5 linked regions of the Homo sapiens genome follow. The protein of the gene in region 5 purifies or fractionates together with the protein of the main gene of each other region. This does not show direct contact. Each region holds a gene or a part of one and is shown on either strand. Other genes may lie near its edges. The genes, in order: CEP63, PIP4K2C, EXOC7, TPM2 and POC1B.

Region 1 (5,912 bases), on a different chromosome or scaffold from region 5:
AGAAATCAAAGCGGATAGCAAAGTCTGGTCAGAGCCACACACAGGGTGCCATGACAGCAATGAGGAGAAACGTTCCCTGACATGGGTCAGGGGATATGGGAAAGCTTTGCCAAGCCAGATAAAGTAGCCAAGTAAAGGGGGAGTTTTAGGAGCACATGACAGGGTGTGGGAAGAGGAGACAAACTGAAGGACAGCATGCACACCAACACAAAAGAAACGATGTGGTGCACCTCAGGAATGGCATTTTCCATTGGTTCAAACTAGCTGAGCCTCTCCTAAGTGTTGGGCTTGTGCTGGGTGATGAGGATCCCACCATGAACCAGAGAAGCAAAGTCCTTGCCCTCAAGGAGTTTTAATTCTAAAGACAGAAATAGACAGTACAAACATAAATCAAGTAATGAAATGATTTCAGATAGTAGTGAGCACTATGAAGCAAGTAACACAGGCCAATGAGCTAGAGAAATGGGGAGAAACAGGTTTGGGAGGCAGCAATCAAAGAAGGCTTGCTCAGGAGAGGATGCCAGAGTGCAGGTCTGCAAGGGGGAAAACGCCAATCAAAGGTGAGGTAAGAGAAAGGGAATATTCAGGGTAAACTGCAAATGAAAGACCCGAACAGGTTAAAGCTTGCTGCACTCAATAAACAGAAAGGACGCCAGCATGGGTGGAGCACAGTAAAGGATGATGCAATGGGTGATTAGGCCCAGATTATTGACACTCTGTAGGCTATACTAATTCATTTGGATTTTATTCTGAGTGCAGTAAGAAGCCTTGGGGCTGGGTGCAGTGGCTCACGCTTATAACCCAGCACTTTGGGAAGCTCAGGCGGGTGGATCACTTGAGGTCAGGAGTTCGAGATCAGCCTGACCAACATGGTGAAACCCTGTTCCTACTAAAAATACAAAAATTAGCTGGGCCTGGTGGCATGCGCCTGTAATCCCAGCTACTCGGGAAGCTAAGGCAGGAGAATCACTTGAGCCCGGGAGGTGGAGGTTGCAGAGAGCCGAGATCCTGCCACTGTACTGCAGCTTGGGCGACAGAGTGAGACTCTGTCTCAATAAAAAAAAAAAGAGAAGCCTTGGAAGAGTCTGAAGGGAAGCAGTGGTGACACTGTTTCATTTACATTTCTAAAGGATAACTCCAGAAGCTCCCTGAATTACTGGTGTGAGTACTATCAGTTAGGAGGCTACTGCCAGAATCAGGGTGAGAGAGAAGTAGTCTGGATCAGGTGGTAGAAGTGCAGGAGGGAAACGGTTGGGTCTGAGATAAGATTCTGGGGGAAGAAATGACAGGACCTCCCAAATGACTGGATATGCGGATGTGGGTAAGGAAGGAATTATAAGTAACTCCTAGGAACTGGCAAACATAATGCTATGTCCTGATATGGAATCTTAGCAAGAGGGAGAATAAAGAGTTCTCTCTTGGAAACAAGATGTTTGTCAGATATCCAAGTGAAGACATCGCATAAGCAGCTAGGTATCTAAGACAGCAGCTCTGGGGAGAGGTCAAGATTAGTAATAAATGTAAGGGTCACTGGCCTATAGGTGGTATTAAGAGCTTGAGAATGGAATGGAAACTTCTAGGGAAGAGAATGCTGAGGGAGAAAACCCATGACAGAGCTCTAGGGGGCCCTCTGACTTAGAGGTTAGAAGAGGAAAAGCCATGAGATGGAGTGGAGGATGAGGTAGAGAGGAAACCAGAAGTTCCAGGTCACAGAAGCCAAGAGAGAGTCCAACTGTGCTGAATGATGCTCAGACACTGATTAGGTCACTGGTGAACTCAAGAGCAAGAAAGCAGTCTGGGGATGGAAGTGGTGTTGGAGAGGGTTAGGAAGAGAACTACGGTGGGGCGGGGTGAGGAACTGGAAAGAGTCACTGCAGACAACTCTTTCCAGAAGTGTTTGGGTGAAGGGAAGCAAACATACAGAGCAGTAAAAGAGAGGCATTAAAAAAAACTGAGGTTTTATTTAAAAAGGGGAAATAACAGGATGTTTTACGCTGATGGGAAAGATCCACTACAGAAAGAGGGTTCACAGAGGCCACACCCTTGAGCTGGCAAGTACACTACACTGACCTTTCTCATCTGTAACTGCACATTCTAGTTCCTTTGCTAGATCTATTTCCTGTGATCCTCAGATGCTGGCATCTTTCAGGGCCCCAAACCCAGCCTCCTGCTCCTCTCTCTCTCCACAGCCTCCCTGGTGGATCTTATCAACTCCCATCGTTTCAAATGCCTGCGGCACATCAACATCCAGATCTTTGTCTCCCATCTAAACTTGTCCTCAGCAGTGCAGACGATGAACATTTATTTCCAATGGATATTCCATGGGCACCGTGCATGACAGCCAGTCCCTTGCCCTCCCTGCCTCTCTCCTCTGCATGAGTGTTGAGCAAGAGAGGACTGCTTGATAAGGTTCTTTAGCACACCCCCCCCTTATTCACTACCAGCCTGACTTTACACACTACCAGCCCCTTGGCTAGGAGGGGCTACCAGCCCAGTAAATAACAAGCCCCGTTGGCTGGTAAGTGGCAAAACCAGTCTATCGATCCAGGTATGTTTGACCCCTAAATCCATGCTTCTACACATTTCCCCTAAAGAAAGTTCCTGCAGTTACTTTATTTTCAACATGTATCATAAAATCCTTATTTCAATTAGTACATAGCTATTCACATTTAAGTCAGCAAGGTAAGTATCACTTTATGATAATAAATATTCGTATGAGAAAAAAGTCTAGCAAAGTGGTTTATTCTTTCAACTTATTGCTGGAAGAAGTCCTTTAAACAAACCAGTGCAGAGAAAATGCCTATCAAAAGTATCAGTTTTTCAGCTTTCTTCACCACTGCTTTAGATGTATCATTTTTATAATTTTATCTCTTCATGTTTTTAAAGAGCTGCTACTTCAGATGACAGTAACTCTTTGGTGTTTATTTTTATTTCCAAGATAGTGATTTTTTTAAGAGGCTACTTTAAGGCTGTGAATTGTCTCACTGTCTTTTCACTCTCTCTTTTTAGTTCTTCAATATGGGCATCCAAGCGCTCTAGAATGTGATGAGACCTCAGTTCCTCCTCTTCCAAAAATCTGGTAGCTATTGAACCAAGGGGAGATACAGGCAAGGAACACTGGAAGAGACACAAATTTTGACATGTGTAAATAAGTAGAATATTATATTTCTAAGATACACTGTTCATGACATTTTCTAACTAGCAATATTAAAAGGTGATTTTTTTCCTCTGAAGATACTTTTTTGGTTTTCATCCTAATGACAAGAGCAATAAAAGAACAAAAATCAGTAAGTTCTGCAAAAATTAACACAGATCTCTCCGTTTCTGACCCAAATTGTAACAATGTAAAGTATCATATATTAGTTATTGGTCTGAAGAATGTTTCAATTTAGACTTATATATGCTTCCATAGTTAATGCCTATTATTTCAAACTCACTTTAAAAACCTAAGTATGTCACTTTTATTTTAAAGCACAAAAATTTAACAAAAATAAATTAGATGCCAGCTAAAATCAATTATTTTTTCTCCTCCAAATTTTCAGTCCACAGTCCCTTATCTGAAACCCTTGAGGCTAGTGATATTTCAGAATTCTGATTTTAGAAAGGTAACATAGAACATATGCCATATGCAGTCAATACTCATTCACAATAGCAGTAGTTGTGTTCTATAAAGTCACCCAAAACACTGAATTAGCAAACACAGAATTTTTGGCCCAGGGAAAATACACACATACAACAAATACACACACACACACATACACACATACCCCACACAGAGAGCATAATCCTAAATCCTAGAACAAATCATTCTGGTAGATTCTGTATTTTTTATTTCACATGAGAGACATGAGGTTCAGAAGTGGTAACTCTCCTGAGGCTGCCCCACTAACTGGTGCTGAAGCTGGGATTCAGACTCTATCCAGCTGGCATGGAGCTGAGCTTCTTTCCCTACACTGCGCTGTCCCGTCCATCTCCACCCTATGGTCACCTCCGCATAAGCAGGGGCAACAAGGCAGAGTGCTGCCTACTTCGACCTTGGCTGGGATTGTGCAAGTCGGTCACTCAAATTTTTTGTCACTCTGCATATGTCCACGAATTACTGTGGAAGTGCTGCGCATACTGATTTGGGAGTTACAGATAAAGTTTAGGGAGTAGACAAATTCACAAATACAAAATCTGTGAATAATGAGGATCAACTGTATTACCCCAGTGGAGTCTGAGGGAACATCCCATCACCAAACACACTGATATTTCTGAAGCAAAACACATGGATACTCACACTAAGTGGAATAGAGAAAGTCTATACATACTAACACATCAGTTCAGGCCAGGGAAAGTTCTGGTGCCAAAAAAATTTTGCTGCTAAACTTAGGAAGAAAGTGAAGTGAGGACTTATTTTGAAAAATAAAAGAAAACCTTTCCATGGACTTGGTAGCACATTAATAAGTCAGAAATACTGCACTTTCACATCTATATGGCCACAGCTGGTGACAGGAAATGAAGGGCCCATGGCAAGTGCTTTGGTGCAGAAGGCAAAAAGATGGTGCAGCCTGCCCAGCAATGGAAGGAGCAAGGGACCGGCATGGTGTCCAAGGCACATTCTGCCCTGAGGGCCACCATCTGTGACCCCCAAGCCATGCTCTGCACACATCAGAGGCACAGCCTTCCTCCCCCTCCACACTCCCTTTCTCCTTTCCAGCAGTTCCTCTTTTCCTCCTTCACTGCCTGTGCCTCAGGACTATCTTGGCATCCAGAGACAGTTCTTGAACTAACCATTCCAGAAGAAAATTGAGCATCACTGAAAAGGGCAAGAAGGGAATTTCCAATAAGGGTTAAAGACAAATGAATACGTATAACATATTTCAGAACATTTTGAAAAGTAGTCTTGGCCGAAAGTGTCTTCACAAGCAAAAACTGTATGACAGGGATACCTAAGAATAATGAAGAGTACTTATGATAAAAGAATCAGTAAGGAAAAAAAAATCACCTTCTTCACCCTTAAAATAAAAAATCAAAGCAAACTTAAAAAACTAACAAATTACTAAGATCAGAAAGTTTCCATACCGAAGATATAAACTCTTCTTGGTCATTCATACTCTCAGACATAGTGTCAGAAAAATTGGCTTCATTTGTATCTAGCGCTGAAGGCAAAGAATGAGTTTTACATAGAGAGTAGGAAGTCAAAGACCTGGTGGAGCTGCAAGGGCTGATTTGAGGACTCAGGGGGCTTAGCACCCTAGACATGGGGTTTATACTATCCGACGCTTGTCCTCTTGGAGAATGAAGATCTGTTTTGTAGTGCTCAGTCTTTATTCCATCATGTCTGTGCTGGCCATGGGTTGGCCTGGATGGTAGATTAGAAAACAAAACAAATAAAAAATTGTAGCAACTTTTCTCTTTCCAACAGAAATGTAGGAAATTTGCTTAATAGCCTAACTAATAAGGCTACAATTTACAAAATGAGCAACCTACTCAGATCAGAAAGAGATTTCTTTCATTCATTCAGGCCCCAAATATCCAATTCCAACTACCAAGTCCCTGCCCTCACACACTTATGGTATAGCAAGAAAGACAAACAAGCTGCCAGAGTAATCTAGTGTGGTTAGTGCTGGGACAGGAGAAGTGCTGTGCACATAAGAAGGCACCTAACCTAACTAGGGGATTGGGTGGGTGTAGGAGTGGAGGTGAGGGTGTCAGCAAAGGCTTTGGGTAGGAAAACATGTAAGCCATATAGTATGAGCTGAAGCCAAGTGGCTTTTCACCGAATGCTTATTTCTTACGGTAACAGCCTATAACAAATTGACTAAAAAGACAAAGGAAGCTGTTTATAAAAAGCCAAATTCTACTTCTTATGGGCAAATGGGGTTGAAGAGGTGGAAGGCAGCATGAAAAGCCTCAGGTAATACACATCT
Region 2 (6,654 bases), about 32 Mb from region 5:
ACCTCAGGTGATCTGCCCGCCTCGGCCTCCCAAAGTGTTGGGATTACAGGCGTGAGCCACAGCGCCTGGCCAAAATTCTTAATGTATCTACATCTTTTCCCCCAAGGACAAGGTTTATAATTTTCATTAAATTTTTGAAAATGCTGCAATCACAAAAAGGTAAAGAATTATATTTGCCAAGACTCTCATTTCTCCAAATATGGCTGTCCCAAATAGTACTCCTCAGTTGCTGGGGAGAAAGGGCTACCCTCACCCCTTAATGGACTCTCACCAAGTAATCTTGGTCATCAATGCCAAATCGATCACGGAGGTTCCTGAAGACCTGGGGACAATACTCCTTGAACTTGAAATGACTGGGCAGATTTTCCCTGAAATTCAGGTTTTCAAAGTAAGAAAACAAACAATATTACATTTACATACACTTGGTAGTTTATAAAGTACCTTCAGACATATTACCTCATTTGATTCTCATAAAACCCTGTGAGGTCCTTTTTTTTTAATTTTTATTTGTTATTATTATTTTTTGAGACAGAGTCTCACTCTGTTGCCAGGTTGGACTGCAGTGGTGCAATCTCGGCTCACCACAACCTCCATCCCCCGGGTTCAAGCAATTCTCCTGCCTCAGCCTCCCAAGTAGCTGGGACTACAGGCATGCGCCACCATGCCTGGCTAATTTTTTGTATTTTTAGTAGAGATAGGGTTTTGCCATGTTTGCAGGCTGGTCTCGAACTCCTGACCTCAAGTGATCCACCCGCCTTGGCCTCCCAAACTGCTGGGATTACAGGCATGAGCCACCACGCCTGGCCCTTGTGAGGTCCTATAAAAACATATTATTTCCATTTTATAGAAGAGGAGACTGTCTCAGAGTGATTCAGTGACCTGCCTAAGTAACATGGTTGGTAAGTGGTATAGTAGAGCCAGGATCTACTACCCATCCAAACAGCAGCATTTCCCAAATCTCAAGCAAGTCAGAAGCATTCTAAAGTCAGCAACAGACACCACTGTTTTGAATGGCATCTTCTTTTCCTAGGAGGGCTTAGTAGAGAATTCAAGTTTTTCTTTCAAGGAGTCCCTGTCAGAAGCTAATGGTTCTCATGGCATCTCCAAGGTCACAAGCAGAAAAAGAGAGAAAGAGCAGGTAATGGTATCTGTACATATTTACTCTATGGAATTGCCAGGCTAGAGGAGAGATAACACTGATTCATATAAGGATATAGGGAACACCAGAAATTATTCTCATGGTTTCCTTGCACAAAACTAATTTCTGCATTTGGGAAGGATGTTAAATTTTCAACTCACTGAAACTTTTAAAATTATTTATTACTCCTTTCTGGGAAGGTTGACATGAGAATGGCAAGGATCATCACTTACCTGTGGAAAAGGTGATTGTTGACCTTGATCTTGGAGCTGGCCTTAAAGTCATCTGGCAGCAGCATCACCGGGGGAGGCACCTGGCTGAGCTCATTGATCTGATAAGCCAAACCATGAATAGGGAAGCCATGAAGAAGGGTGTGGAGAGCTACCCATACACTGTGTCTGGGCAGCAGTCATGCAAGGGCCACTCAGACCTCATTCCTTTAAAAACACTGGCTATGCATATGCTTGACAGAAGTGAGAGAATGTGTCTAACCCTTCTGCTGCCCAAGAAGGACTACAGTAAGCAACCCTCACACACAGCCCCCAACACGCCCACCCCCATGGAACTTCATGCTCACAACAGTCATTTTATATTAGGCTAACCCTGTAAGCAACTCAGGACTATTTTTAAAGCTGTGAGAAATTCTAGAAAAAAAAAAAAAAAAAAAAAAAAAAAAAAAACTCTGCAAGCTCAAGGCAGCTACATGTTCCATTAGAAAAAGAAAAAAAAAGGCATTTTAAAAATGCACAAGAGTGTTAATGGGATTCTGTGGGGCCAACCACAGCAAAAAGGATAAATGTCCATATCCTGCAAAAGGCATCTCTTTGCAAACAGGACCAGTCTTCCTAGACCACTCTGACCCAGTTGTTTGCAGTAGGCCCCCACCTGTCTAAGGTGTAAGGTAAAGGAAGAGCAGCTGATTTCAGAGCGAATGCAGGCAATCAGAGGATATGAGCTCATTAGGCGTCTGTTCCCTAAAGCCAAACTAATCCACAGCCCAAAGGACACAAGCATCACATGCTCTCCTCGGCCCCCAGGATCTGCAGTCTGCTAATTCAGGGTAGAAAGGGAGCTCTAGTACTTAAAAATCCTGAGCCGTGCTTTCTCCTTGGTGTTGCTACAGTACCTTTCACCTGCCTTTGTTACTGCATGACTCTAATCACTAGTTTATGTAAGTTCTCCCATCTAGATTGTGAGCTCTTCAAGAACAAGGGCTCATTCTAGTCGTCTGCATCTTTCAGGTGTCTAACTAGCACAATGTTTGGCACACAGTGATCCTGACATGTCTATTAATTGAATAAATGAATGCCTTGCCTATCCTTACTAGATCATTCCACAGAGGCTATGAACTGCAGTCTAACCTAAATCACACACACTGCAGTGCAACCAACTCCTCCCGTTCTCAGTAGAAAAGGAGGACAGAACATATCCCTCCAGATTAAAAAAAAAAAAAAAGCCACTTGAGACTCCCAGCCTAAAATTCAGCTATAGCTCCTCCTGCCCCCTCCTCCCCACCTGCTAAGCAAGCTGAATCATCACTAAGACATATGTTCAAGGAATTTCTCCATTCCAAACACTTGAAGTAGATGTGTGTTGGCAGAGGGTGGGGTGCTGGGGCTAAAGTATATATACCTAGTGAAGCTGAGGTAGGTCTTACATGTAACTCCCCCAATCCTTAACAAGGGAAAACCCTCCCTGTTAAGCATCCCACAGGGAATGGATGAATCACCTGGAAGGTACATATGAGAGGCAGCCCTACCTCCATCAGCCTTCCCCATACCAAGTGCCTTCCACTGAATACTCACTAAGAGCTTACCACCCAGAGAGCCACAAATCCAAAAGAGATCCGACTGGCCACAAACAACATTCTTAATTTTTGGTTAAGAAATTCTTTACCACAAATTAAAAATGTGACAAAACGCGTATTCTTCCTCACAACTTCCATCTCCACAGCCTAGCCATGACTATATTCAAGAACGCTGATTTCGAAAATATTCCGTGTCACATTCAAGATAACTGCATTTCTCCCACTCCAGACCTGACGGAAGATGGGCAATGGCTGTGCTTCTTTCAGCTGAGGTATCCTCAGGAAAGGGGATGGAGGTCTCCTTGGCCTCCTCCTGACTCCCAGAGCAGTTTCCTGCTTCAAAAGTTCACCACCATAGTGACCTCAGGAACAGAGCCCCTCAGCCTTCTCTTTGGTCAACAATCGCCACCACCTACACCAAACACGATCGCTCTAGCCAGCGATAAGGATGCAGTTAAGACCAAAGGCATATATACATAAGTCCTGAGAGTGTGCAACTTCTAGCTCAGGGTGGGGTAGCTTCTCTAAAATGCTGTACCTCTGGAAGGGAAAGGAAGGGACAAGCAGGATTAGAAAGCCCAGGAAACCTGGAGCTTCCCCGAGACAAAACCAAGATTCAAAAGCCAAGGACCGGGGCTGGGAAGCAAGGTGGAAAGCAAAGTGAAAGAACCTTTTCATCCATCTACTCCCCTCGGCCCCTCACCCTCCACCTACACTCTCACCAACAACCACCCGAGAAAAAGCCACTCCCCCTAATGTCCTCCCCGCTTGCGCCCGGTCCTGGCCAGTCCGCGTAGCCTGAGGCTGAAGCTAGACATGGCAGGAAGGAGTCAAAGCACAGGGAGCTGGATTTCACGGGGGGAAGGTGGAACTAGAGTGGAGCAGTAAAGAACTGTTGGGGAGAAAAAAGTCCACAGTCAGAAAACCTGCTGGGGGAACACCTGGGGTTGGTGGGCAGGGACCAAGACAACCCGGGGGAGGGGAGTGGCACTGCGTGGGGCTCCGGAGGCTGGAGCCTGGAAACAGGGACGCCTCGGAGCCGAGGGGTTTGGACAGGGCTGCGGGGGTCTAGGGCTGGTTCTCACCGAGTGGGCTACGCCCCACAGGAACACACCCACCAGCGGGTCGGCCGCCCGGAACACCTTCACCTTCTGCTGCACGAAATGCTTCTTCTTGGTCTTGGAGGCGAAGCCGAAACCTGGGCCGGGGCCTGCTGTCGCCGCCGATACCGTGGCTGGTGGGACCGAGGAGGACGCCATAGTCTCCCGCGCAACCGACCAAGTGGAAGCCGGAGCCGGCAGCTATCCAGGCGCCCGACCCCGGAAGCGGCGCTCACCTGCGCTGCTGTCACGTGACCGGAGGCCGGACAGCGGACGCGCGAACAGGGCGAGGCAGGACGGGGCGGGGCGACGCTGGCCCCGCCCCCCGGCGCCTGCCTGCCTGCCCCAATGTCCGCTCAGTGTGTGGGCTCACCTGGCGTGCGGGATCCCTGTAAGCTGACGAAGCAAGCGGCCCGCGAGGCCCCTCGAACTGTCAACTAGGAGACCGTGGTGCGGCCTGGGCTGGCCTGATTGACTCCCAAGGTCTAGGGCTTCTTTGCTGCAAAGTGGCCGCCTTCCGGCTTTGCCCAGTTTCTAATGAGTAACCTCGGACCTGATGCTAATGCGAAAGCATTCTTACCGAATGGGGGTTGGGAAGGGGAGGGTTTTGGAAACCCAAAATTCTTACCAGTGGTCTCAAGCGTCTTGAAATTCATTCATTCATTTAACAAGTATTTATTGTGCACTTAGTTGTACTAGGTCCTGTTCTAGGGGCTGATTTTCCTTTTATTGAAGCAGGGTATAGGACAGTGACTGCCCCGAAGTAGTTGGGAGTCTAATGGCACTGGCTGGCCAATGGAGATCAAGTTTGCAGTATGCAAAGTATGAGCTATCCTAGAACTGTGTATGAAGCAAAGACAATGATACAAAGAAAGGAAGTGTAGCTGGTCAGGGAAGGCTTCAAAGAGGATAGAGACTTTACTGAGTTTGGAAGGGTGGGTGGAGTTCAGGAATAGAGGTTAAAAGGCTGTCTAGACAAAGAGAACAGCATACAAAGACATGGAGACAAGAAAGAACGAAGCCGGGCGCGGTGACTCACGCCTGTAATCCCAGCACTTTGGGAGGCCGAGGCGGGAGGATCACCTGAGGTTGGGAGTTCAAGACCAGCCTGGCCAACATGGTGAAACCTCGTCTCTACAAAAATACAAAAATTAGCCGGGCATTAGCCGGGCGTGGTGGCGTGAGCCTGTAATCCCAGCTACTCAGGAGGCTGAGGCAGGAGAATCACTTGAACCCAGGAGGCGGAGGTAGCAGTGAGCCGAGATCACGCCAAGCAGAGATCACGCCAAGCAGAGATCACGCCACTGCACTCCAGCCTGGGTGACAGAGTGAGACTCCATCTCAAAAAAAAAAAAAAAAAAGCCGGGCATGTTGGCAGGTGCCTGTAGTCCCAGCTACTTGAGAGGCTGAGGCAGGAGAATCGCTTGAACCCAGGAGGCAGAGGTTGCAGTGAGCCCAGATCATGCCATTGCACTCCAGCCTGGGCGACAGAGCAAGACTCTGTCTCAAAAAAAAAAAAAAAAAAAAAAAGCCAGATGCGGTAGCTCACGCCTATAATCCCAGCACTTTGCGGGGCCGAGTCGGGAGGATCACCTGAGGTCAGGAGTTGTGGGCAAAGGATTACCCAGGTGCCAAGGCAAGAGACTGAAGGCACAAACTGTTGCAGTATAATAAAGAAAATAGTTAGAATAAAGAGTAGTTACAATACAAATTAGATATAGAGATGATCATGGACAATTATCAATCATCAGTATAAACATTATAAATCATTAGCTTTTAATATTACTCTTTGTGGCATTACTAATATAACCTAGGAATAACCGGCAGGTATAGGGTCAGGTGCTGAAGGGACATTGTGAGAAGTGACCTAGAAGGCAAGAAGTGAGCCCTCTGTCACGCCCGCATAAGGGCCATTTGAGGGCTCCCTGGTCAAGCGGTAACACCAGTGCCTGGGAAGGCACCTGTTGCTTAGCGGACCGCGAAAGGGAGTCTCCCTTTCCGTGGAGGAGTCAGGGAACACTCTGCTCCACCAGCTTCTTGTGGGAGGCTGGATATTATCTAGGCCTGCCTGCAGTCATCCAGAGGCCTAAACCCCTCCCTTTGGTGCTGTGCTTCAGTGGTCACGCTCCTTGTCCACTTTCATGTTCCTCCTGTACTCCTGGTTCCTCTTTGAAGTTCTTAGTAGATAGCGGTAGAAGAAATAGTGAAAATCTTAGTCTTTGATCTTTCTTATAAGTGCATAGAAGAAAATGCTGACGTATGCTGCCTTCCCTCTCTGCTTTGGCTACCTAAAAGGGAAGGGACCCCTATCCCATGATCACGTGATTTGCTTGACCTTATCAATCACTTGGACAACTCACCCCTCCTTACCCTGCCCCTTGTCTTGTATTCAATAAATACCAGTGCGCCTAGCCATTAGGGGCCACTATCGGTCTCCGCGTCTTGGTGGCAGTGGTCCCCAGGCCTAGCTGTTTTCTCTTTATCTCTTTGTCTTGTGTCTTTATTTCTTACAATCTCTCGTCTCCGCACACAGGGAGAACACCCGCTAAGCCCAGTAGGTCTGGACCCTACAAGGAGTTCGAGACCAGCTTGACCAACATGGTGAAACC
Region 3 (6,175 bases), on a different chromosome or scaffold from region 5:
CCTGCGCTGGTAGGTCTGGATCTGCTGCTCAATGTGCTCCCGGTAGGAGCGCTCAGCAGTCTTCTGTGTCACTGCCACCAGCTGGATCAGTTCAGACCTGGGTCGGGGTAGGGGACAGAGGAGAGGAGGACAGGATTGGCTCCTCAGGCCCAAAGGCTGCGGCAATGCCGGGAGGGCCTCCCATTGCACCCCAAACTCCACAAGCTCTATGGCATCCCACCTTCCGGGTCCTGGGGTGGAGGAGACTGAAGCACCCCCTCCCCTCTCGTCCACAAGAGAAGGAGCCCAGGGGGGCAGGGGCTGGCACAGCTGCACAGCCGAGGGGAAGGTGAGAGCCGCAGACTCACTCCCGCAGGCCACTTACTTCTCCAGGGACTTGAGGATGTAATTGTAGTTGTTGTGCAGGAAGATGGCGCTCAGAGCTGGGTCCTCGTACACCTTGGACTTGCTCAGCAAGTTCAACTGCAGGTTGCCCAGCACTTTACCTGCACAGGGAAAAATGGGGCCACACCCACCATGGCAGTCTGACCCAAACGACCCCACCCCAGGACCCGCGAACGCGCTCCTATCCATCGCTCCTCGTCCTGCCTCAGGAGGCCTTAGCCCAACTCCCCTCAGCCTCTGAACTAGAGGTCAGGTTGTGGTTCCAAAGATCAGATGGCACTTAGGAGAGGGCCCTGGGAATAGCCAGAGAGCACAGACAGAAGGAAGGGAAAGGCAGGGCATGCAGGCAGCAGGGCTGCTGGTCTGCCCGGGAGAACACTCACAGATATAGGTGCTTAGCAGCCGCTTGCTGAACTCAGAGCTGTAGCTGGTGGCCGAAGAGCTGGTCTCTGTGAGAGGAGAAGTCCTGTTATTGCAGTGGCAGCAGCCAAGACCCTCAACGGCCCTTCCCCCAGGCCATGCAGCAGTCTGAGGGGACACTGAGACAGGCCCTGGGCTTCCTTGGGCAGAGCTGGCTGCCTGCTAAGCCACAGGGTGGCCCCTGCCGCAGGAAGCACCAGCCCTGGAGTTTTTGGAACCCAGAGCTGCCCTCTATGATGGGATGGAGCTGGCCCATGTCAGCAGAAAAGCTGGCAGGAAAAGAGTGAGATGCCAGCGCCCTGTCCCCTCCTGCCCCCACCCACCCTGGGTGGTTTCTACAAGGCCCCCTTTTTCCTTTTGTCAACAGCAGAGTCTTAGAATGGGCTCCCCACAGCCTCTCCACCTTCTCCCCTACATTCGAACATCCCCTCTACCAGACCCTACTGAACAGACGAAGCTGCGGCCTGCACAGTGGGGAAGGCCGAGTGGGGACAGCAAGGCAGGGAGGCCGGGCGAGCCTAGGGGGTGTATCCAGGGCTCTAGCCTGGGCAGGTGCTGCGGATAAGCTCAGAGACAGAGTGGCCTTGAAGGGAGCAGAGAGAGTTGAGAGCACCCCGAGAAAACTCATGTCCCCTCTGACTCAGGCTCCCCAGTAGGTACTGAGAGTCAGTCCCCAGGGAACCTCACCCACCAAGCTTCAGAGGGACAGGAGGGGGCTGCAGAACCGCACTGCTTACCTCGGGGGTCTAAAGGAATATTGTATGTGTCCCCAAGAACTACGGAGTGAAAGGCAGTGCACACAGAGGGGACAGAGGGAGAGACAAAGGAGGGAGAAAGATGCAAAGTGCAAAAAACAGGTTAGAAACGGCATGTCAACCCGAATTAAGCAGACCTCTCCCCACGACAGCCAAAACACAGATAGCAAGACACAGCAGGCGGGACCCTCTGAGGACCAGGGAACACCCTGGAAAGTAGAGAGCTGAGAACTGCAGGCTGGAGGCTGCCCACAGGCTCCTTGCCCCCAAAATGGGACGGGAGGAGAGGGCCCAGGGACCTCAGTGCTTGGAATGACCCAGAAAGGTGCTCTTGCTTACAGGCCAACCCCCTGAGCTCCAGTCCCAGGGCAGGGCCAGCAGGAAGACGCCCAGCGGGCCCTGAGACACTTGCTACCCTCTGAAGGCCAGCTGAGCGAGCCTGATTAGGAGAGCAGGCAGACACGAGAGAAGGATTTGGGAGGGGGGCAGGGGCAGAAAGGACACCTTCCAACCAACCAGCACCGCTCCCAGAGTGAGGACACTGCTTCCAGGGCGAGGACGGTCAAAGGGGCTGAGGGAGGGGCCAGAGGTCCAGTGTCTGGTCTTGAAAGGTGCAGGCAAACCTTGCTCTCCTGATGCTCAGCCCCAGGGACCCTCTGCTGAGCACACCTCAACCCCTCCACAGACTGGAGATACCTCCTCACTGCTACCTGCCCTCTAACCCCATGTCTCCAGGCAAGGAGGCGAGTGGGGCAGGGGGCCCAACTGGGAGGTACCAGTACCTTGGGAGGCCAGCATGGCGCCTGCCGTCTCCTGGAAGTCCAAAAGCTGCTGCAGGAAGAGGATGGCCTGGGTGGGAAGAAAACGGTGCAGAAGGGCAAGTGGCAGGCCCGGCCGACGGCCTCCCACAGCGACCCCTCTGAGTGCCCAGGGCCAGCCCAGGGCTGGGATCCGCCCAGTGAAGAGCGCGGCTGGAAACTTCATTTTCACTCTAGCCTGCCAGGAAAGGCCCTGTCTGCTAGAGACACTAAACATGTCACTGTCCATCCTGCCACCCAGGACTGCTCACAAAGGTGCGAGCGGCTCTGGGCCAGGCTGAGTCCCTTCCACCAGTACTCTGCCTGGCCCTGGGCCTGGGCCTGGGCCCTCCTTCCTCCCCTCTCCCTGGTGTCCTCAGGCAGCACCCACATTGCTGGTGAGCTCGTGTACGGTGCCGTCCTTCGGCATGTTGTACTCCTTGTCCGGGTCATTCTGTGGAAAAACAGCCTCTGGTTCCCTGAAGCAGCCCCCAGCCCACCCCATGCCCCAGTGCACCTGCTCATGGTGCCGCCTCCTGGCAGACGGGTGCTAGGACACCTCTCAGGCACAAAGGCTGAGCCAGGCTGGACCAAGGGGGAGAGGCCCTTCCCACTTCAGAGGGCTTGGAGGCCCCAGGAAGGAAAGGAAGGCACATGGGTGCTGACAGGCCAGTGGCGCAGCTGGCTGCCCCGGGACAACGCACCCTCTTGGAGGCCTGCTCTGAGAGTCCCCCAGGGCCAGGTCACTGTGGTGCTGGGCCGGGAGGGAGGGAGAAAGGGGAGGACAGCAGGGACCTTGATGTTGTCTGCGAAGTCCTCCAGCGCTTTGGCACCGATGGTCTCCATGGATGTGATGAGGCCAGGCAGCTTGTTCTTTGTGCTGGCAGCCGTGCCCTGAGGAAGCACAGGGGAGCCCCCAGCTCACCTCCAGTCGCTCTGTGAGCATCTCACTCACCCAGGGCCCTTCCTAAGCTGCTTCCATGCACCTTCAGAGCAGAAGTGTGGGACAGAGAATGGGGTTCTCCCAGGGAGGGATGGGGCGGCCACACCCGGCAGCACGATGCCTCCTGGCTGTGTTTTTGAGGGCCCCTCGCCCACATACCTGGAGCACCTGGTCAAACTCAGGCTTGGTCTGCTTGAGGTGTCGCAGGATGGGGAAGACGGTGAGCACCGTGGAGAAGTCGTGTCGCACAATGGCCTTCCGGGCAGCAGACACGATGTTCTCCCCTTCAAGCATCAGCCCATCCAGGGCATCCTGAGGGGGCAGGGAGACAGTTCAGGGAAGGGTGGGGCGGTGGGAGCTAGTTCTGGGCTAGTGGGGGATCCTTGCAGTATGTAGGGGGGCCAGTGTGCAGGAAGAGGGGTGACGGGGAGGTGGTGAGCGTCCACCCAGGACCGGTCCCCAGGGCACGAGGTGGTGGTGGTGGGTGGAGTTGAGGGCTGCAAGAGTCTGTTGTGACAGCTCTTGCTGGGGCTGGCTGCAGAGCCCCCGGGGCGGGGCGGGACCTGTATCAGGGAGTCGAAGGTCTTCTTCTGGTGGTGCTCGGGGATGATGTCGGCCAGCAGCTGGTACTCGCTCTGCGCCAGCTTGACGAAGGCACTGACGCAGTGGATGTAGGCATCGGTCTCCACGTCCAGCATGTCATCTCTCCCTGGGGGATGGCACAACTCTTGAGCTGCTGGTCTGGGGCCAGCCACACTCCTGGCTGGGGGCGGCGTGGGTCCCCCAGCTCCTGGCCTGTACCCCACACTGGCAGAGGATGGGGAAGAGGCTGACTGTTCTGGCAGAAAGCTGCAAGGGAGCCAGCAGGCCCCGCCAGGTTCGAGGGGAATAAAAGGAGCTGAGCCCAGCCTTTGTTCTGGCTTCATTCTCGGCTCTGCGCAGACAGTGGGATCAGACACCAGAGGCAGGAGAGTGACGGATGGAAAGATAAGGAGGGAAGATTCCTGAATCAGCGTCCTGGATAAGGTGGTTTGACCCCAGGACTGAGCATTCTGAGTTGTACCTGAAAGAGGGCAGCCCAGGGTGGGCAGGTGGCTGTGCCACCTCAAGGAGGCTGGCACTGGGGTCATCCATGTGGGCAAATGCGGGGCCTGTGAAGGAAGTGACCAGCCCAGTCAGGGCTTCTGGAACATCTAAGAGGGTGGTTGGCTGCAGCTTCTGAGGCTGGCTGGCATGGGGTCAAAATCTAAGAGGCTGGTAAGTCCCAGAGAGGAGGGGTTGCCAGCTGCCCCAGGAGGAGGCCAGACCCTATTACTGGAGGCCACGGCGGGGGCGCCTGCAGGCAAAACCGGCGGCAGAACTGCCTGGTCCTATGTGCCAAGGGATGGGCTCCGAGGGGATCAGAGCTCTGAATTGTTGCAGGAGGCGGACGTCAGGGCTCCCTGCCCTCAAGGGAGCCACCTTCCCTCTCTGCCTGCTTTCCGAGGAGCAGCGGCTTCTCCCCTTGGCCCAGGCCTGACAGACAGGCACGCACTCCCATCTGGAGAGAGGCAAGGAGACCTAGGCCCAAAAGAGAGAGAGTGGAGAGAGAGGCGCATAGGCCTGGCCCATCCTCAGAGCAGAGTGGGCCCAGCTGGGCCAGGCAGGAGCAGGCCATCCGGGGACCGCTGCGAAGGCAGTGTCAGCGGCTGCCCTCGGGCTGGGCTGCGGTACTCACCGGCCAGCGGCCCGTGCTTGTCGTTCAAGGCCTCGGACAGGTGCTTAACTCGGAAATCATGCTCGTGACCTGGCGAGATGTCGGCCGCACAAACACAAGCAGCGTTTATCCAGGGGCCAGGCAGGCCGCCCCTTGGGGTACAGGGAAGAAGCCCTTCATCTCCAGGAGGGGGACGTCAGATGGGGATGGGGAAGGGGGCATCGGAGAGGGCCCTGAGCCCCTCCTCTACCTCAAGCCACCTTGGGAACAGCCGTTTCAAGCCTGACTTCAGTGAGCACCCAGGACCGTCCTTAGCTGCTCATTTCCCCGAGCCTGGAGGCCCAGGGAAAGCGGAGAAGGACCAAGGAGGGGCTGAAGAGCTGATGCTTGGCCCCAGGGGGGTTCCCCACCTCGCTGTATTTGGGGAAAGCCCCAGTTTGCCTGTCCTCTGCTGCACACACTCCCCTTTCTAAAGATGGGAAGGCCGGGAGGCCTCGGCCAGCTGGGGCCTGCCACTGCTGGTCTGAGCGTGAAAGGGCTGCCCCAAGACAAATAACTTTTTCTGAGTTCACACAGGAGACAAGGACAGAGACAGGGAAGGGAGGAGGGAAGCCTCAGGGAGGGCAGAGCTGCCATCAGCCAGAGAGGACCAGGCCGAGGGCTGCGAAACTGTCCCTGTGCCCGCTGAAGCCCGAGTGGCATCGGGGACCTGCCGTTCCCACCCTGCTCCCCTCAGGGTTTCTCCCGAGGCCCTCCTGGGGGAGGCTCTGCCCTGCCAAGTGCGTGGACACACAGTGGAGGAGGAAGGGACAGGAGGGGAACACAGGGTGATTACCTTCCAGAGGAATGAGGTTAGAGCCCCCCTTTTTCCCATCTAGACCATGCTGGGAATACTGTTTCAGAAGGTTCTGAGCCTTACGGATCGTCCCTGTCACCAGAGCCACACAGAGAGGAGATAAGAAGACCTAGGAAATGAGTGAGAGAAAACAGCAGCGGCCCTCCACCTGCCCCCCAGGCCCCGCACCCAGCTCCCCAACAGTGAGCAGGCCTTTCCCTGAGACCACCAGAGACGCTGGGGACAAGGATGAAGGAAAGGAGTCATTTCCTTCTCCAAATGGAGCCTTGATTCTACTACCGACCCTCCTTGTTCTGGATTTCAGCTCATTTCTGAAAGGACAGA
Region 4 (4,922 bases), on a different chromosome or scaffold from region 5:
GCCAAAGCAGCTACCTTGGCAGGTCATTTACCCTGAGATTTCTCTGCCCACCCCACAACCCCAACCAGACTTCACTTCCTGCCATTCCCAACCCCCAGCTTAAGGTAGGAGAATGGCCATATGGCTTTGGTGTGGTGGTAGTTTCCCCATTCTCTGCCTCAGTTTCCCCATCTTCCTTCCACCCAGGATTGTTTTAAGATGAACCTATGGTTAGATTAGCATAAAGCATGGTCTGAACATCAGAGATGACATAGCTGTTTGTGTCGACTGCTCATGTTCCCAGCCCCCCAGGGGTTGGGCTTCTGTGACCTCCAGCCTCCAGTTTTGGTTCTCCACCAGTCCTGGCACTTGGGAGGGAGCTGACCTGCAGCTGCTAGCACAGACAACCCTGGGCATCTGACACTCTATAAATAACCAAGGCCCAGTGCAGCTGGAGGCAAGATTGGAAACCCAAGTTGCTGGTGGGGGCTGGAGGGGCAGGGGGGACAGGGACAGAGCTGGGGAGGCAGAGCCGCAGCACCAGGAGCAGATAGGAAAGACTGCCCAAGCTTCCTGGTGACCTTGAACACAGCACTCAACTTACATGGTGCCTCAGTTTCTCCCTCTCTCTTGCTTCCCATTTTTCTAATGGGGACAGTAGTGCCTGTCCTGTGGTTAGAGAGCCGCCCCCGTAACTGGGAAGAGCTTGAGAGGCAGGAAATGGCACATATCAGTCCCATGATGAGGACCCCAGGACTTCCCAAACTTTCCAGAGTCTTTTGTCACCCCACCATCATGCAGAGTTTTTCTTTTACAGTCTCACCTCTCTCTAGGGTAGTACTCCAATGTCCCCCACAGTGATTCTTCCCAACCCCCAATGCTGTCCCCAGAATGCTTCCACACTGTCATCCGGCCCTGTGCCCATGATGGGCTCTTGTCACTCTAGGTGGCCAAGCTCCAGGTGCCTTCAGCACCTGGAAGACAAGCTACCATCTACTCTCTATATATGGTGCTGTTTCTCCTGCCCTACAGTCCGACCAAGGACCTGCTTCCTATGCTGTGTCCAAGTGCTGCCCCCAGCCCCTCCCCCCACCTCCTTTCCCTACACAGGTCCTCTCTCCTTTCCACTCTGAAATCTCAGGGTCTCTGTGTCCTTGTTTTTGACAGAGAAAGGGGATAACCTAATATTTATGGAATGTGGACCCTGTGCAGGCAATGTACTCAGTGCTTTCTGCATGTTATTTTACAATTTCCCAAACTTGGCTTATCATCAGAATCACTCGGGGGCTTTAAAAAAAAAAGAGAAGATTCCCAAGCCCCCGCCCTACACATCCCAATTCAGTGGATCTAGCATGGAGTAAGAGAACCTGTTTAGTTTTATGAGTCTCACCGAAGGTCCTGTTGATTAACTGAGTATTAAAAGCAGTGGATTATCTCAGAACAGCCTTAAGAAGGAGGAACTGTTATTGTTAACTCCAACTTGTGAAGGAGGAAACTGAAGCTTAGAGAGGCTAAATAAGTTGCCCACAGTTACACAGGTGTTGAGTGGCTGAGCCGTGGCTCAAAGACAATCTGACTCAGAGCCGATGCTCTTAACACGTGGCTGCCCTGCTCCTCTCATTTTCCTTTACTGGCGCTCGCCTTGCTCTGCCCTTTTTCTCAGTGTTTGACCAGTTTTTATGGATTTTTTCCAAAACCTCCATGGTTTTGCCTCCTACTGCAAGCCCAGGGGCTGAGTAGACATCCCTCACACTGCCCCTGCATTGCCCCCAGCTCTCTGCTGGCCTTGGCAGGGAGCCCCTTGCTACAGCCATGGGTATTCCTTATAGGCCTGCCTCTTGGGCTTCTTGCTGGGAGTCTGCCTTACAGCTGATGACAGATGACATCACTGAACTTGATACTTTTTTTTTTTTTTTTTTTTGAGATGGGATCTTGCTATGTTTCCCAGGCAGGGCTCCTGGGGTCAAGCTGAACTCCCGCCTTAGCCTTCGGAGTAGCTGGGATGACAGGCATGCACCACCATGCCCAGTATCACTGAGCTTGATTCTGTGACGGGCTATTCTTAGCAGCAGTGATGTCTGGTTGGCCTGATTCTCCTCCCATCCCCTTACCTGGGCCAGGCTTTGCTGTGTAGGAATCAGAGCTGCATCAGACCTGGCCCCAGCACTTGAAGTGCTCCCACAGGGAACAGGAGGACTTGTGTGCAGGTGACCTTTGGGAGACTAACTGTGCACAGTGCAGGAGAGGCCCTGCAGCAGGGGAGCGGAGCTTGTCAAGCAAGGAATGCATGTATTTTTTTGTTTTTTTGAGATGGAGTTTCGTTCTTTTTACCCAGGCTGGAGTGCAGTGGCACGACCTCAGCTCACTGCAACCTCCGCCTCCTGGGTTCAAGTGATTCTTGTGCCTCAGCCTCCCAAGTAGCTGGGATTACAGGCATGCGCCACCATGCCTGGCTAATTTTTTATTTTTAATAGAGACAGAGTTTCACCATGTTGGCCAGGCTGCTCTCAAACTCCTCACCTCAGGTGATCCACCCGCCTCGGCCTCCCAGAGTGCGGGGATTACAGGCGTGAGCCACCATGCCCGGCCTGAATGCACATTTTTTACTGGAGCACAGTCTGGGCAGAAGATGATTGGTTGGGGAAAAATCACATAGAATGTCTAGAAACCAGGAAGCCTCAGTTCTTTCTGAGAAGAATCTCGCCATCCTCTGGAGCCTCTCTGATCCTTATCCAAGGCTAACAAGGCCTTTTTGACCCCTGACCTCTGACCCACAGGCTGAGGCAGATGTGGCCTCCCTGAACCGCCGCATTCAGCTGGTTGAGGAGGAGCTGGACCGGGCCCAGGAGCGCCTGGCTACAGCCCTGCAGAAGCTGGAGGAGGCCGAGAAGGCGGCTGATGAGAGCGAGAGGTGGTCAGGGGCCTCGGGGAGGATGGTCCGGGAGGGAGAAGGGAGCCTGTCTCTGCTGGTCCTGACCCTACGCTCACCCTCTCCCTGCCTTTCAGAGGAATGAAGGTCATCGAAAACCGGGCCATGAAGGATGAGGAGAAGATGGAACTGCAGGAGATGCAGCTGAAGGAGGCCAAGCACATCGCTGAGGATTCAGACCGCAAATATGAAGAGGTGACAGCCTTGCCCCTCTGCCTGCTCGCTGCCCAGCCTGCAACATGCCCAGTCCTTCTCCACTGATCTACCCTCTCTTTCTCACTCCCCACAGGTGGCCAGGAAGCTGGTGATCCTGGAAGGAGAGCTGGAGCGCTCGGAGGAGAGGGCTGAGGTGGCCGAGAGGTAAAGATACCCGGGGGTGACAAGTGAGCCCATTGGCCCTGGGGCCTTCCACACAGTGGGAAGGTAGCATCCTAGGCTTGGGGCTGTAGGGACAGGCCCTGTTCTCTGACCCCTGCCCGCTGCCCCCAGCCGAGCCAGACAGCTGGAGGAGGAACTTCGAACCATGGACCAGGCCCTCAAGTCCCTGATGGCCTCAGAGGAGGAGGTAGTGACCCCTCTGAACCTTTCTGGGCAATGGCGCCTTCTCTCAGCTCACCTTCCCTCCGTCTCAGCACCGCAGGCTGCTCTTTCTCAGCTGCTGGGGATCAGGAAGGGCCTGGGGCTTCTGAGCCCTGCCTGCTGTCACTCTCACAACTTTGCTCTTCTCTTCTCTCCTCCACCCGTCCCCTGCTGTGCCATCTCCACTGTCTGGCTTCGCTGTGCCCTCACACCCTGCCCCCCCCGCCACACACCCCCTGCAGTAAATGTGGGGACCTAGAGGAGGAGCTGAAAATTGTTACCAACAACTTGAAATCCCTGGAGGCCCAGGCGGACAAGGTAGAGGGGAGCAGAGGGGCAGTGAGGATGGGGTCCCACAGGGGAGGGAGGTGAGGGGCCCAAGGCAGGGAGGGGCTGGGTGTTCAACGGAGGCAAGATGACCAGGAGCCTACGGGGTACAATGGAGAAATGAAGGATCTGTGGTAGCGCTGTACTGATGGCGTGTGTGTGTCCCCAAAAGTATTCCACCAAAGAAGATAAATATGAAGAGGAGATCAAACTGTTGGAGGAGAAGCTGAAGGAGGTGAGAGTCCTCTTCCAGTTCCCAGTCTCCCCTCAAGCCACCCTAATCCTTGCCAGAGACGGCCTGTGGCAGGACACTTGAGGGTTGGGATGGACAAGAAGCTTGACTTAGGCAGTAGTCTGTGGGAGGGCCTAATTCTTTGCCATTTCTCCCATCCTGCCTTTACCCCCAGGCTGAGACCCGAGCAGAGTTTGCCGAGAGGTCTGTGGCAAAGTTGGAGAAAACCATCGATGACCTAGAAGGTAAAAGAAGCCTTTATAAGTAGGTCCACACCTGCCGTGATTATCAGTCTGTCCTGTACCTTCTCATCCCATTTTATTTGCCACCAATAAACTAGGGTTGGGCCACCTAGGACCCTACCAACTCCCCAACTCTGTGGGCCATGTCTACAATTCAAGTAATTGTAGCTGCCCACGGCGCAACAACTCCAGTGCTTCTCAAACTTCAGCATGCATGAGAATCACTGGGAGAGTTTTAAAAACAGATTCCTTGACTCTGCCCCAAAGAGATTGCTGACTTTGGGCTGGAGGATTTACATTTCTAGCTAGTTCTCTGGTACTGCCAATGCTGCTGGTCCTCATGCCACACTCTGAGTGGCACCCTTATAGACAATTCCGTCCCCGAGTGTAACGCAGTAGAGTTCTAGTGCAGAGACTGGCTTATTAACTAGAGAGCTGTTGGACTGAACATCTAGGTCTGCATGACAGCACTAATAGAAAACACTATTTTAAGCTAGATTTGACAAAAGCAAACATCCAGATATTTGTGAGTCTGTGGCTATTTCTATTGTTAATGATGATGTGGCTAAAGTTGCCTTTCCTTTTTATTCTGTGATAACCCTTTCACTTTCCCACTTCTCTCGCTTCCAGCCTT
Region 5 (6,175 bases):
TCTATCTATCTATCTATCTATCTATTGAGACAGTCTCACTTTGTCACCCAGGCTGGAGTGCAGTGGTGCGATCTTGGCTCACTGCAGCCTCCGCCTCCCTGATTCTCTTGCCTTAGCCTCCCAAGTAGCTGGGATTACAGGCATGCACCACCAGGCCCAGCTAATTTTTGCATTTTTAGCAGAGATGGGGATTCACCATATTGCCTAGGCTTGTCTCAAACTGATGGCCTCAATGATCTGCCTGCCTCAGCCTCCCAGAGTGCTGGGATTACAGGCATGAGCCACCACACGTGGCCTTATGAAAGCACTTTAAGACTTTTCATGGTTCATGGACGTTTTTGGTTCTGTAATGAACAAGTAACTATGACTATGAATATAGACATAAAATTTTTACATACAATTACAGGAACTCTGTAGATTCCAAGTTAAAAAGACTCCTGTTATATAATTTGGGCTATTTTCAAGGACATGTGAATCAGTTTTACTAGAAATAAGTTCAAGAATTTCCTCATTCTGGGCTGGGCACAGTGGATCATGCCTGTAATTCTAGCACTTTGGGAGGTGAAGGCAGGAGGATTGCTTGAGCCCAGGGGTTCAAGACCAGCCTGGGCAACATGGCGAAACCCTGTCTCTACAAAAATTACAAAACTTCGCCGTGCAAGGTGGCACAAGCCTGTAATCCCAGTTATTTGGGAGGCTAAGGTGGGATGATCACCTGAGCCCTGGAGGTCGAGGCTGAAATAAGCCGAGATTGCACCACTGCTTTCCAGCCTGGGTGACCCTGTCTCAAAAAAAAAAAAAAAAAAAAAAAAGAATTCCCTCATTCTTTTGAGTGAATACCAGTAAAGTTTAAGGAATTCAGTAGTAGTTCAGCTAACTTCTCATATGCCTCTTAAACTCTCGAATGTCCATGTTTGCTGATCCAGTAGTCACTATTGACTAATGTAATATTCATCTTGGTGACACACTTTGTAGACGTTTTTAAAGGCAGTTGGGTGGTACTAAATTAAGAGAGTCAGAAATCTATTAATGTCTTAGTAGAAATTTTATATCCTCTTTAAATTCTTAAAAGTCTAGTTAGATGTTATTTGAGCCCTGACGATAAAGGACTAACCTTTCCTAATCAAAGTCAAGGCAAAGAGAAGCCTGTTTTATTGGTGCTAACCTATTTTTGATGTATCTAATTAAAAATAAAAGGGAGGAGGAGGAAATAGAAATCATCATTCTCACTTTCAGCCACCTCAAATGCAAAAAAACACATACAGAGAGCATATGCAGGATTATAATGCAGTGACCAGAGCAGGGGGAAGGCCTTAACCTCAGTCCCCTTTAGTTTCTGTTAAGTTGATGGTAGAAACCTCGCCTCCTTCTGGCACCAGGTTCTTCCCAGCCACTGCCTGTACTTTAACTCATTCGAGGTTCACATCCCTTCATTTATTTTGCTCTGGGAAATTTCTCCCAGCTATGGGCCCTCCTGCTCAGGAGGCACTTTTAGCTGACCAAGATAACACTTTTCCTCATTTGCAAGTTTCTTTAAAATCCTGTTTCCTCTATGGAGCTTCTGGTAACAAATTGGCACCTGTTTTGTTAACAACCCTTTTTCCTATCACTTTCTAAAATTATGTTTTTTGTGTGCCCTCCCTTCTCCCTAGAACAAAAGCCTCATAAGGGCAGGGATCTTGCCAGTCTCATTCACAGCTATATTCCTACTACCCACAGCAGTGCCCAGTGCCAGGTACTGACAAGTGCTCAGGGAATCTTTGAATGAATCAGTGGGTGAAAATTTTTCCCACAAACTCCACAAGGACAGGGACCATGTCTGTTTTACCTACAGCTTATGGCAACACACACAGATGTTTATTCAAGGATGGTGTATAGCCTCCTAACAGCACTGCCTCGTGGTTCCTCTCCACTTTAGAACCTTCTGTTGTTTACACAGAAGCCACACAGAACTTCCAGTGCTCTAAGTAATTTGGGCCAGTAGAAGACACTTTCCTTTTTGTCAGACTTAAGCAGAGTGGTTCAGAGATTTGGCTGTGGAAACAACTGCCTGATTCAAATCCAGACCCCTCTCCCCACTGACCTGATAACACTGGCAGTTACTTATCCTTTATGTGCCTCTGTTTCTTCACTGTAAATTGAGACAAGCAGTAGCACCTGTTTTACTGGGTTATGCTGAAAATTAAATGAGTTGCTACATGTAATGTGTTAATAACCGTTCTAGGACACATGTGCTCAAGGAATGTGGGTAGGATAATGATGTGATGGTGGTGGTAGTATTTGGTTGATGTCATAGGGTAAGTACTTCTATATTTTGTTATTATCTAAGCATTTCATTTTATTAAATATTTTTCTCCATAATTGCTTTCTTGAAATGTAAGAGTTAAGTCCTCTCATAGAAATATTTTGGTCACTTAACATAGTCACATTAAGTAATATTTTTTAAAAAGAAGCTTAGTAAGTAAGACAATTTGATCCCTTGCATTAGTTTTTTACAGGTTTTTTTTTTTTCCTTTTGAGACAGAGTCTTACTCTGTAACCCAGGCTAGAGTGCAGTGGTGCAATCTCGGCTCACTGCAACCTCTGCCTCCCGGGTTCGAGCAATTCTCCTGCCTCAGCTTCCTAAGTAGCTGGGATTACAGGCACCTGCCACCATGCCCCACTAATTTTTGTATTTTTTAGTAGACATGGGGTTTCACCATGTTGTCCAGGCTGGTCTCAAACTCCTGACCTCAGGTGATCCGCCTGCCTCGGCCTCCCAAACTGCTGGGATTACAGGCATGAGCCACCGCGCCTGGCCAGTTTTTTATAATTATTATGCCAAGTTTATCCGTGGGGATACTGAGTAGGTTTTTTTCCCCAGGTTCTATATATAATAAGCTTCCTCTGTTTGGAGCCTTTTTATAATACTGCCCTTCAGATTTGAATCTTTCTCACATTTTCTGAAAGAAAATATTAATAAATTTTTACTTACTGTAAAATCAGGGTAAACTACCCAGCATGGAAAATTTTTCCTTGAAAGGTTATTTTCTTGACTTTTTTTTTTTTTTTTTTTTCTTTTCTGAGGCGAGTCTTGCTCTGTCGCCCAAGCTGGAGTGCAGTGGCACAATCGCAGCTTACTGCAACCTCTGCCTCCTGGGTTCAGGTGGTTTTCCTGCCTCAGCCTCCTGAGTAGCTGGGATTACAGGCACCTGCCACTATGCCTGGCTATTTTAGTGGAGGCAGGGTTTCACCCTGTTGGCCAGGCTGGTCTCGAACTCCTGACCTCAGGTGATCCGCCTGCCTCAGCCTCCCAAAGTGCTGGGATTACGGGCATGAGCCACTGCACCCAGACTTCTTGATTTTTAAATATTATTTCACATGGAACTTCTTTGTGCCTTTTTTCTGTGTGAATCTGTGAACGCCAGATGCAAAGTTTCTGTCACAAAGAATTAATTTTAGGTCAGCCTTAAGAATGGGAGTAGGGAGAGAACAAAAAGAAAAATCTTCAATTATATTCCACACCCTTAATTGATGACTCATAGTAATCTTTACTGTGGGCATAGAGGGAAACTACAAATAAAATTGAAATATAGTCTGTGACCCAAATCTGTCTTTTTTGGTTTTTGTTACTGTGAAAATATTAATAATAAAAATACTATTCATAGTTTTCTAATAGTCTAAAATTTGTTTTTATTTTCTCTGTGGTCTTCTGCTTTTCTGTTTATATTTAAAAGGCATTGTGGCCAAACAATAAAAAAAGAACCTTGGGAAGGATATTAAAGGAATAGACAGCATAAAACAGCAGACAAGATGTCTGAGATTTTTCTCATTTGCTTTTTAATGGGGCGTGTGGATGATAGATTTCTCCATGAAGGAACTTCTGTTCTGTTCTGTATAAATGAATTGTCCTATTTTCAGTCCATTGGAGCTCTCTGGCCTCCCCAAGTCCAGGAAGTTACAGGCATGGGCAGTTAGGTTCTTTTGTTGGTGATGTCACTTAATTTTAATTCTCAACACACCATTCCTTTTCTTACAAAAAGTTTCACTGCAAGCTTGGTCGGATGAGTAATAAAGGCTCTCTCTTGAATCATATGGATAATGCTGGCAAGTGACAGAAATAGAAGAGAGTTCTTTTAAAAATACAAGGCACTTGGCTTAGAGTGAGTACAGAATTGAATCAAAACCCCAAAGCAGATGCAATAAAACCAAAATTATTTTAATAAAAGAATAAAAGGAAAAAAGCAACTTGGTTAGTCTACATAGCATATTTTGACCTTTTAATGGTCTGTCAGTGTTGTTTGTCATGATGAAGATCTTGGCTGCAGAATATGACTTTACTGCATGGGATGGTAACAGTGGTCTCTGGTATTTAATATTTACAGCCTGGTTTATTTGTGGTGTAGAGGTGAGGTGGTGACTCTCCAGAGCCTTTCACATAAAACATCTTCTTTCTTCTTCTTTCTAGATTTTCACCCGATGGAAGACTAATTGTGTCATGTAGTGAGGATAAAACTATTAAAATTTGGGATACCACAAATAAGCAATGTGTTAATAACTTCTCAGATTCCGTTGGGTAAGTACACTTTCTTTGTGCATTTATGTGGGTTAGTTTTCTAAGGAGACGTTTGATTATAACAATTTAAATAAATAAATGAGTAAAGAAATTGAAATATGGCCGGGTGCAGTGGCTCACGCCTGTAATGCCAGCACTTCGGGAGGCTGAGGCAGGCGGATCACCTGAGGTCAGGAGTTTGAGACCAGCCTGACCAACATAGTGAAACCCTGTCTCCACTAAAAATACAAAAATTACCTGGGCATGGTGATATGTGCCTGTAATTCCAGCTACTCGGGAGGCTGAGGTGGAAGAATCACTTGAACCCAGGAGGCGGAGGTTGCGGTGAGCTGACATTGCGCCACTGCACTCCAGCCTGGGTGACAAGAGTGAGATTCCGTCTCAAAAAAAAAAAAAAAAGAAATTGAAATATTAGGTCATCTTATTCTTTCCTCCTAGATTTGCAAATTTTGTGGACTTTAACCCTAGTGGTACATGCATAGCTTCAGCAGGTTCTGATCAAACTGTGAAAGTCTGGGATGTAAGAGTGAACAAATTACTACAGCATTACCAAGGTAACAATTTTCCTAACAAAAAATTCAGTTACCGAATGGACTCCTTTTGGAAGGACTGATTCTCCTTGTTGGTGTGGTTTGGCTGTCTTACTTGGGGTCATGGGCTGCCTTGGAACAGGCTAGAGAATAGTATAATTAGCTCCCATCAACAGCAGGGTCTCAGAAGCTCAAGGACAGCAGGAAGTGAAGAGACCTTAAAAATGATGTGAGGGCTGGTTTAAAGAAAAAAAAAGAAGTTGCTATGAGATTTTCAAATTCTGGTTATCAGCATTGTGTGAGAAGTCAGGATAGAAATGACTGAATTCTGAATCACAGGGAGTTACGTGAGCACAAATAGGTGTTATAACTGGTAGAAAACAACTACCTACTATGCCTATGTATTGATATTGAACTAAAAGAGAAGTGAATTTTCTTGGTTTATATTGGATTTATATTAAATCGAAATGATTATTAAACATAGTAGCTTTTCCAGTGTTTACTATGTAGCAGACACTGTGCCAAATCTAAACAATATTCCTAGGAGGTATCATTATTACTCACATTTTTAAGATAAGGAAATTGAGATTTAAATAGGGTAATTAACTTGCTCAAAGAATCAATAGAACTACTTAGGTCTTCCTGCTTACACAGTGCATAGAAAAATTAACTTTTGATCATTGTGTTATACTGCCTCCTGTTGGAAGGATACTGTCTGGAGACAAAGTCTCAAGCATGATGGCAGGACTGTGCCCGTTTCAAACTGTCTCCACACTTTTCTCCCTTTAATCCCAAGCCACTAATTAGTTATTACCTTTAATTTGAGACTAGGTTATATACCCTATCTGAGCTGGTGATGATTAACTGTCAGTTTTATTGGCAATATATCCAAAGAATTTATAGTAATGTGGTCAATAAGATTACCTTTCCGTGACACAGTCTCATTTTTAAAGTTATTCTGGCTCTCTAACTGGAAGCTTAGAGCTATGTGATGCCAAAATACTCGTTTTAGTGAGCCATATAGAGTTTTGTTGTTGTGGAAACAGTGCTCTTGTTTACAACCTATTGCTAATAAGGCACTGGGGTATCT

Evidence for each region.
Region 1: the proteins of POC1B (region 5) and CEP63 purify together in Homo sapiens (co-immunoprecipitation; one large-scale study listed by IntAct). This does not show direct contact.
Region 2: the proteins of POC1B (region 5) and PIP4K2C purify together in Homo sapiens (affinity purification with mass spectrometry; 2 studies listed by BioGRID and IntAct, with this or other methods). This does not show direct contact.
Region 3: the proteins of POC1B (region 5) and EXOC7 purify together in Homo sapiens (affinity purification with mass spectrometry; 2 studies listed by BioGRID and IntAct, with this or other methods). This does not show direct contact.
Region 4: the proteins of POC1B (region 5) and TPM2 purify together in Homo sapiens (affinity purification with mass spectrometry; one large-scale study listed by BioGRID and IntAct). This does not show direct contact.

What each region holds. Positions count from the first base shown.
Region 1 is NC_000003.12:134,558,582-134,564,493, reverse strand, and holds part of CEP63 (centrosomal protein of 63 kDa), read right to left. Parts: intron 5,345-5,912; coding exon 5,065-5,344; intron 3,118-5,064; coding exon 2,959-3,117; 3' UTR 1-2,958. UniProt on the Homo sapiens protein: Required for normal spindle assembly.
Region 2 is NC_000012.12:57,588,840-57,595,493, reverse strand, and holds the start of PIP4K2C (phosphatidylinositol 5-phosphate 4-kinase type-2 gamma), read right to left. Parts: upstream 4,303-6,654; 5' UTR 4,205-4,302; coding exon 4,031-4,204; intron 3,275-4,030; exon of another isoform or gene 3,177-3,274; intron 1,470-3,176; coding exon 1,372-1,469; intron 369-1,371; coding exon 272-368; intron 1-271. UniProt on the Homo sapiens protein: Phosphatidylinositol 5-phosphate 4-kinase with low enzymatic activity. May be a GTP sensor, has higher GTP-dependent kinase activity than ATP-dependent kinase activity. PIP4Ks negatively regulate insulin signaling through a catalytic-independent mechanism.
Region 3 is NC_000017.11:76,085,313-76,091,487, forward strand, and holds part of EXOC7 (exocyst complex component 7), read right to left. Parts: intron 5,924-6,175; coding exon 5,831-5,923; intron 5,170-5,830; coding exon of another isoform or gene 5,017-5,169; intron 4,860-5,016; coding exon of another isoform or gene 4,732-4,859; exon of another isoform or gene 4,430-4,731; coding exon of another isoform or gene 4,363-4,429; intron 4,009-4,362; coding exon 3,863-4,008; intron 3,612-3,862; coding exon 3,459-3,611; intron 3,251-3,458; coding exon 3,152-3,250; intron 2,811-3,151; coding exon 2,748-2,810; intron 2,409-2,747; coding exon 2,342-2,408; intron 1,581-2,341; coding exon of another isoform or gene 1,542-1,580; intron 834-1,541; coding exon 768-833; intron 486-767; coding exon 365-485; intron 98-364; coding exon 2-97; intron 1-1. UniProt on the Homo sapiens protein: Component of the exocyst complex involved in the docking of exocytic vesicles with fusion sites on the plasma membrane.
Region 4 is NC_000009.12:35,683,615-35,688,536, reverse strand, and holds part of TPM2 (tropomyosin beta chain), read left to right. Parts: intron 1-2,756; coding exon 2,757-2,890; intron 2,891-2,985; coding exon 2,986-3,103; intron 3,104-3,197; coding exon 3,198-3,268; intron 3,269-3,397; coding exon of another isoform or gene 3,398-3,729; coding exon 3,730-3,805; intron 3,806-3,986; coding exon 3,987-4,049; intron 4,050-4,221; coding exon 4,222-4,291; intron 4,292-4,922. UniProt on the Homo sapiens protein: Binds to actin filaments in muscle and non-muscle cells. Plays a central role, in association with the troponin complex, in the calcium dependent regulation of vertebrate striated muscle contraction.
Region 5 is NC_000012.12:89,470,548-89,476,722, reverse strand, and holds part of POC1B (POC1 centriolar protein homolog B), read left to right. Parts: intron 1-4,447; coding exon 4,448-4,555; intron 4,556-4,993; coding exon 4,994-5,109; intron 5,110-6,175. Other genes in the region: POC1B-DUSP6 readthrough, read left to right, coding at 4,448-4,555, 4,994-5,109.